Linked DNA regions of Homo sapiens. The protein of the gene in region 1 purifies or fractionates together with the protein of each later gene. This does not show direct contact. Each region holds a gene or a part of one and is shown on either strand. Other genes may lie near its edges.

Region 1 (3,941 bases):
AAGAGAAGATGAGATATCATTTTTTAAAACAGTGAAAACAAGACAAATACTATGGGCAAATGTAGTGTAATTTAAAATTTATGCTAAGTTGACAGAAAACCATTCCTTTGAATTGATCATAAAAATTAAAATATATAATATGAAATCAATTACTTTAACTGAAGGCTGAAACCAAAGCCATTCCTAAAGTTAGAGTTTTGTTCCATTTCTGGCCCAAAAGAATGGCCCTGAATATTAGGTAATACTGGTTTCAGGAGCTGGAACTCATTCGTCCCTGAGCCTCCTGCCAGGCACACCTCGTACTGATAGTTCTGAGACAGGCTCCCGGTGCCCCTCACGTCCACCAGATGCCCTGGAAAGGGGCCCTCAGGCACTGAGCAGCGACCCACCGAGGCCGCCCTGCTCCTCCTACACAGCAGCACCGCCACGAACAGGAGCACCGAGAAGAGGAAGAGCGAAGACACCGAGGCCAACGCCACCACCAGGTAGACGGTGAGAGAGTCGGCCTGGCCCTGGGCTGGGGCAGCCTCCGGAAGCGGCAGGTAGGGCTGGGAGAAGCCGTCCACCAGGAGCACGTGCAGCGTGGCGGTGGCCGAGCACGGAGGCTCGCCATTGTCCTTGACCAGCACCACCAGCCTCTGCTTGGCCGCGTCGCGCTCGCTCAGCAGCCTGGCGGTGCGCACCTCGCCATTGTGCGCCCACACACCGAACAGCCCGGGCTCCGTGGCCTTGAGCAGCTGGTACGACAGCCAGGCGTTCTGGCCCGAGTCGCCGTCCACCGCCACCACCTTGGTCACCAGGTAGCCCGGCTCGGCCGCCCGGGGCACCAGCTCGGTGCAGGGCGCGGAGCCATTCTGCAGCGGGTACAGCACGAAGGGCGAGTTGTCGTTGGCGTCCAGCACCAGCACGCGCACCAGCGCCTCGCTGCTCAAAGCCGGGGAGCCGCGGTCTGAAGCGCCCACCCGGAACTCGAACGCCTGCAGGGCCTCGTAGTCCAGCGACCTGAGGGCGAACAGGTGGCCGTTGTCTGTGTTGATGGAGACCAGGGAGGCGAGGGGCAGGTGCGGATCCTGGGGCGGCAGCAGCGAGTAGGTGACCTGGGCGTTGGTGCCCGAGTCTCTGTCTGTGGCGCTGACGCTGCCGATGTGCAGGGCGGGGCTGTTGTTCTCGCGGACGAACAGGGTGTAGGAGGTTTGGGTGAAGGCGGGGGCGTTGTCATTGACGTCCGACACCAGCACGGTCATATTGAGATGTGTTGTCAGCCTGGGTGTCCCTAAGTCAGTGACGGTGATAGTGACGTTGTACTCGGCTCTGCTTTCTCTGTCTAGTGGTGTCTCTGTTAGTAGGGTGTAAAAGTTCCCCACAGAAGATTTCAGGAGGAAGGGTAGATCCTCCTGAATGGAGCAACTTATTTTCCCATTTTCTCCTGAATCAAGGTCTGAAACACTGAAAAGTGCAACCACAGTTTCAGGCGCATTCTCAGGTATTGGGCTGGTAAATGCAGACATGGTAACTTCTGGGGCATGGTCGTTCACATCTATCACTTGAATCAGAACGGTGCATTTTCCAGAAAAGCCTCCAGCATCTCTCGCCTCGATATTGACTTCATAGGACTGAAATTTTTCGAAATCAAGTTGTTTCTTTAGTCGAATTTCTCCTGTCAAGAAATCGACCTTAAAAGTTTTGCTTATCTCATCTGAAGCTTGGAAAAGTGAATAGGAAATCTCTCCGTTGACTCCTGTGTCTACATCCGTGGCAGAGACCTTCACAACCAGGAAGCTTATTGGACTGTCCTCAGAGATCTGCACCCTATAGAAAGGCTGCTCAAATTCAGGGGCATTATCATTGACATCGACAACTTCAATGTAGACCTGAGCAGTGCCAGATCTGGGCGGAGAGCCACCATCCAGTGCTGTGAGTGTTAACCTGAGCTCAGCTTCTTCCTCTCGGTCCAGCGCTTTGTCCAGCACCAGCTCTGGGTATTTCCTGCCATCACTGCGTTTGCGGGTGAGGACCCGAAAATAGGAGTTGGGGCTGATTATATAGTTCTCAATATTGTTTTGGCCTATATCTAAGTCTTCAGCATTCTTCAGAGGAAACGCAGTCCCAGGAGGACTGCTCTCTGATACTTTCACCAACATTTGTTTGTCCAGAAATACTGGAGAGTGGTCGTTTATGTCTATTACTTGCAGCTCAGCTTGAAAAAACTCGAAGGGACTCTCTAGCAACACTTGGAAACGTAGCACACAGGGCTCTGTGTGACCGCACAGATCCTCACGGTCCAATTTCTCATTTAGCAACAAATCCGCGGTCTCCTGATTGAGCTGCAAATGTAGTTTGTTCCCTCTGGAAACAACCCTAACCCCCCGCCTGGAGAATTCCCTCTGCTCCAGACCCAGGTCCTTTGCTAAATTGGTGACAAAGGAGCTGCCCTCAGTTTCCTCCACCACAGAATAGCTTCTAGGTTCCGCCGCGCCCGCCAGAGATAAGCCCAAAAGGAGAAAGGAAAAAAGGACTTGCCTTTGTCTGCAAATGAGCTTCCCGCTGGCCTCCATTGTTCTTGCTGAATTCAGCTTCCTGGGAGGACGGTTCTGTGGGACTGTAAAGTCCCCAGTATCTGAGGCTGTGGTTTTCTACAGATACCTCAGAAATATGCCAGTGAGTAGTCCTCTCCAGAGGACCCAGCCGTCCTCCCTTTGGCATCCAAGCTCCCCGTGGACTTCCAGGTTCTGCTGCTTTTTGCCGGTTAATGGAGCTGCAGCTGCGGTTCTGGTTTGTGCCTTCTTATCCTGCAGCGCCACCACGGGTCCTCACAGGATCTTACATTTTGTGGGATGATAATAGATGTAATATTCCCAACTCTGCCTGTATGTACCCTGGGACTATGTAAAGTTACAACACCACGGTTAATATCGCCGGACGTTACTGAGCAGACAACTGCCCGAAGGAGAAATTGCGTTAGTCTTTCAACAATGCTAACTGAGTTTTGGGCAAAAAGGAAATATTTAGGTAACAGTCTAGCTTGGCAAAAAGAATTTCAAATATAATAGTAGTTAACATGGGCAACATTTAGATCTTTATAGTTTTATTTCCATGAACCATAGGAATAATTAGTAGCTGTGAACCTCGAACAAATTATTTAATCTCTCTGCTTTAATTTCCTCATCTGTAAAATGAGGATAATAATAGCACCTACCACATAGGGCTGTTGTGATTTCCCCACCTTACACATGAGGAAACTGATTCAAAGAGAGATTAAGCTTAAAAATAAACTATGTACCCGGTATATGGCAATTTGATACCACCAGGTAGGTGACTCTGCATAAATCCATTGCTATAACTAGAAAAACACCTCAAAATTACATGGTAGAATAGTACAGGAACATGACTATCTCAGGTAGAGAAGTTATGTCAAACAGTGAAGGTAAACAGGGAAAGGCTGGAGAGCTTGTCTAAATAGAGACAAAATGTGTAACAGCAGTGGTGATTTTATTTCTGGGGAAGCGTGTCCTTTTTTGTTACCTCTATTTCTCTTCTAATAGCATCAATTTTAAAAAGCTTTTATTTTGATATTTTTCATATCTCATAAAAGGAGAGGAGTAAAATTAACCTGCAATTACTCAGTACTAGCATCAACTATTATCAATGTCTTGCCATAATTCTTGACGCTATCCCTCCAACATCTTTACGTTCCAGACAAACTGAATTTTCACCCACAAATACTTCATTGTACATTTCTTTAAATGCATAATAACTTTAAGTGACTCTAAAAATACCCTTAAGTACAATGCCATTATTATACCTAAAAAATTCAGTTAATATTACTTAATACCCATCTATATTCAAACTCTTCCAAGTGTTTCAAAGTCATTGCTGATGTTTGAATGAAGATCCAGACAAGATCCACACATTACGTTTGATTGGTAGATCTCGTAAGATCT
Region 2 (2,746 bases), on another chromosome or scaffold:
AGTCAATCCATAGAAACAGAGGGTAAAATGATGGTTGTGAGGGAATGGAGGGCAGTGGAGAAAATCAGGCAATGTTGGTCAAAGGGTACAAATTTTCAGTTCTAAGATGACGAAGTTCTAGAGATCTAATGTGCTGGATGGTGACTATAGTTAATAATGATGCATTGCACACTTGAAATTTTTTGGGGAGTAGATCTTGCTTTGTGTTTGTTGATACCAATGGACAGAATGGAGTAGATCTTAAACGTTCTCACTACACACAAGATTGTTAACTATGTAAGATAATGGGTGTGGGTTAAGTAACTTGATTACGGTAATCATTTTACAATATATATGTATGTCAAATCACCACAGTGTAAACCTTAAATATATACAATTTTATTTGTCAGTGTATATATATATATTATAATATATATATAAAATATAATATATATATATGTCAGTATATATATACAATTATATATCAGTATAGTAGGGATGAAGAGAAAACCAGACAGGAGGAGACACCACATCATATAATTTTATTGGTAAATAATTCTTTAGCAACCAGATAAAAATTAAGAGAGACTCATGTTCTCTCCATGTGTGCACAATGGGGGCCTCCAGTACAGGCTCTGGCACATGAAAAAATGCTCAATAAATGCTCACTTTATGAAAAAGTGAATCAGTCAATGTACAGACCAATTCTCTCATAAGTAGAATAGTTGACAGACCACCTAAATTCTATGGACCTCCCTTACACATGAATAAGAAGAGCTTATTATCTATCCCTACAATGACAGATACCAATCCAACCACCTGTTCATGGAGAATGTTCAGTTCATAAGTGGATCTTCATCATCTCACAAACTGACCTTTGAGGACCAAGACAATTAACATCATTCCAGCCCCATCTTTTGGGTGATTTACGAAAATTTAGCACAACGCAGCGCTCATTGGGATCACTGGGCTCACGTGGATGCCAGAATCTGAAAGCGACAAAAAGGATGAGGGCATTTCTTCAAACAGAGCTTTGAAAAGGGTTAGAGACAGGGGTGAGGAGCGAGGGATGAATTTCATGGAACATAGGGTCAGATATGCCCAAATCCACCTTTCTGCTACTCATCATGCAGCTTCTCCTCCATCTGCATTTCCGGCATTTCCTTTGAAAACTGTGCCTATGTCACTCAATGTTCTCTACCTTACTGCTTTGAATATCCTCACCATAGATTTTCTAGAGGTTCTCTTCTATTTGTCCATCCTTATGTCCTGTTCCTATGGGTCCATCAACCTATAGGGTGTCCTTGTATGATGAAAAGATTTTACCCTGGTCCCACTTATCAATAGAGTTTTTTCCTTTTTTTAATGCACTGTTTTTAAAGTCTAGAGAACTAGTAAAATCTTTTGAATCTTCTACTTATCCTTGTTATTGGACAAGTAATTTAACTTCCCTGATTCTCAGTTTTTCTATCTAAAAAATAAGGACTAGAGTAATATCACTATTTATTTCATACAGTGGATATGAAGATCGAAGGTGGTAATCCAGTAAAGTATGTATTTTATGTAATTTATGTAATATATGTAAAGTATGTAATTTATGCAATTAAAGAATTACATAAATATGAGATATAAGATTATCAGAATTTAGCATTTTTGCTTCATAAGAAGCATTACATCTTCAGCCTGACTGGGTGTGGTGGCACATACTTGTCATCCTAGCAACTCAGAAGACTTGGGTGGGAGGATCAGTTGAGCCCAGGAATTCAAGGCTGCAGTGAGCCATGATTGCACCACTGCACTCCAGCCTGGTTGACAGAGTAAGACCCTGTCTCAAAAAAGAAAAAAAAAGCATTATTAAATCTTAATAATTGGTTATGATCTTAATCAACATGGGTTTTCACTATGTAGAGACAGGTAAATATACGGGTTAAAAGCACAGTAAGATCCACCTGATTTGAGAACAATTGTTGACACCACTGGGTGACCTTAGCTGAATTATCTACACTCTCCAAGCTCAATTTCCTCATATCTACAGTGGGAAAAATAACAATGTGTGCCTCATAGGGTTCTTGCGCAGATTAAATGAGATAATGAAATTATTTAACCTAGTACCCAAGAGCTAAAAGAAGAGTGAGCTATTTTACTTTTATAGCTGATAGCTAGAATACCCTAAGCTCTCTGCATGATCCAGGACCCAAGATTCTTTTATCTCATTCTATACTCACGTGGAACTTTCATTGTATGGTGTCTGATCAACCCATTGCCAATGTCGCTGACCTTCTGGATCTGAGAGCCCCACAAAATAAGCAGATTCTTCTTGCAGATTCTGGAAGATGAAATCCTGAGGGGGGAAAAGAAGGAGTCACAGCCTTTACAGTATTCAGCTTAAACTGAATTCTTAATACCTTAGAGAAACAAGAAGAAAAGGAGAGGATCCAGCAACAGCTGCATTAGAGCTCTACGTAGGAATGGGGATCTCTGGCTGAGCAGGGCAGAATCAAAGACATCGCTTGTAAGCATGATGTTCAGTACATACGGAAGGAATTTTTTTTTTTTTTTTTTTTTGAGATGGAGTCTCACTTTCTGTCCCAGGCTGGAGTGCAGTGGTGCAATCTTGGCTCACTGCACCTCTGCCTCCCAGGCTTAAGCGATTCTCATGCCTCAGCCTCCCCAGTAGCTGGGACTACAGGTGTGTGCCACCATGCCTGGCTAATTTTTGTATTTTTAGTAGAGGCTGGGTTTCACCATTTTGGCCAAGCTGGTCTTG

What was found.
Region 2: the proteins of PCDHB8 (region 1) and CLEC4A purify together in Homo sapiens (co-immunoprecipitation; one large-scale study listed by IntAct). This does not show direct contact.

Annotation. Positions count from the first base shown.
Region 1 is NC_000005.10:141,176,649-141,180,589, reverse strand, and holds PCDHB8 (protocadherin beta-8 precursor), read right to left. Parts: upstream 2,801-3,941; 5' UTR 2,556-2,800; coding exon 150-2,555; 3' UTR 51-149; downstream 1-50. UniProt on the Homo sapiens protein: Calcium-dependent cell-adhesion protein involved in cells self-recognition and non-self discrimination. Thereby, it is involved in the establishment and maintenance of specific neuronal connections in the brain.
Region 2 is NC_000012.12:8,136,362-8,139,107, reverse strand, and holds the end of CLEC4A (C-type lectin domain family 4 member A), read right to left. Parts: intron 2,321-2,746; coding exon 2,205-2,320; intron 969-2,204; coding exon 821-968; 3' UTR 501-820; downstream 1-500. UniProt on the Homo sapiens protein: C-type lectin receptor that binds carbohydrates mannose and fucose but also weakly interacts with N-acetylglucosamine (GlcNAc) in a Ca(2+)-dependent manner. Involved in regulating immune reactivity.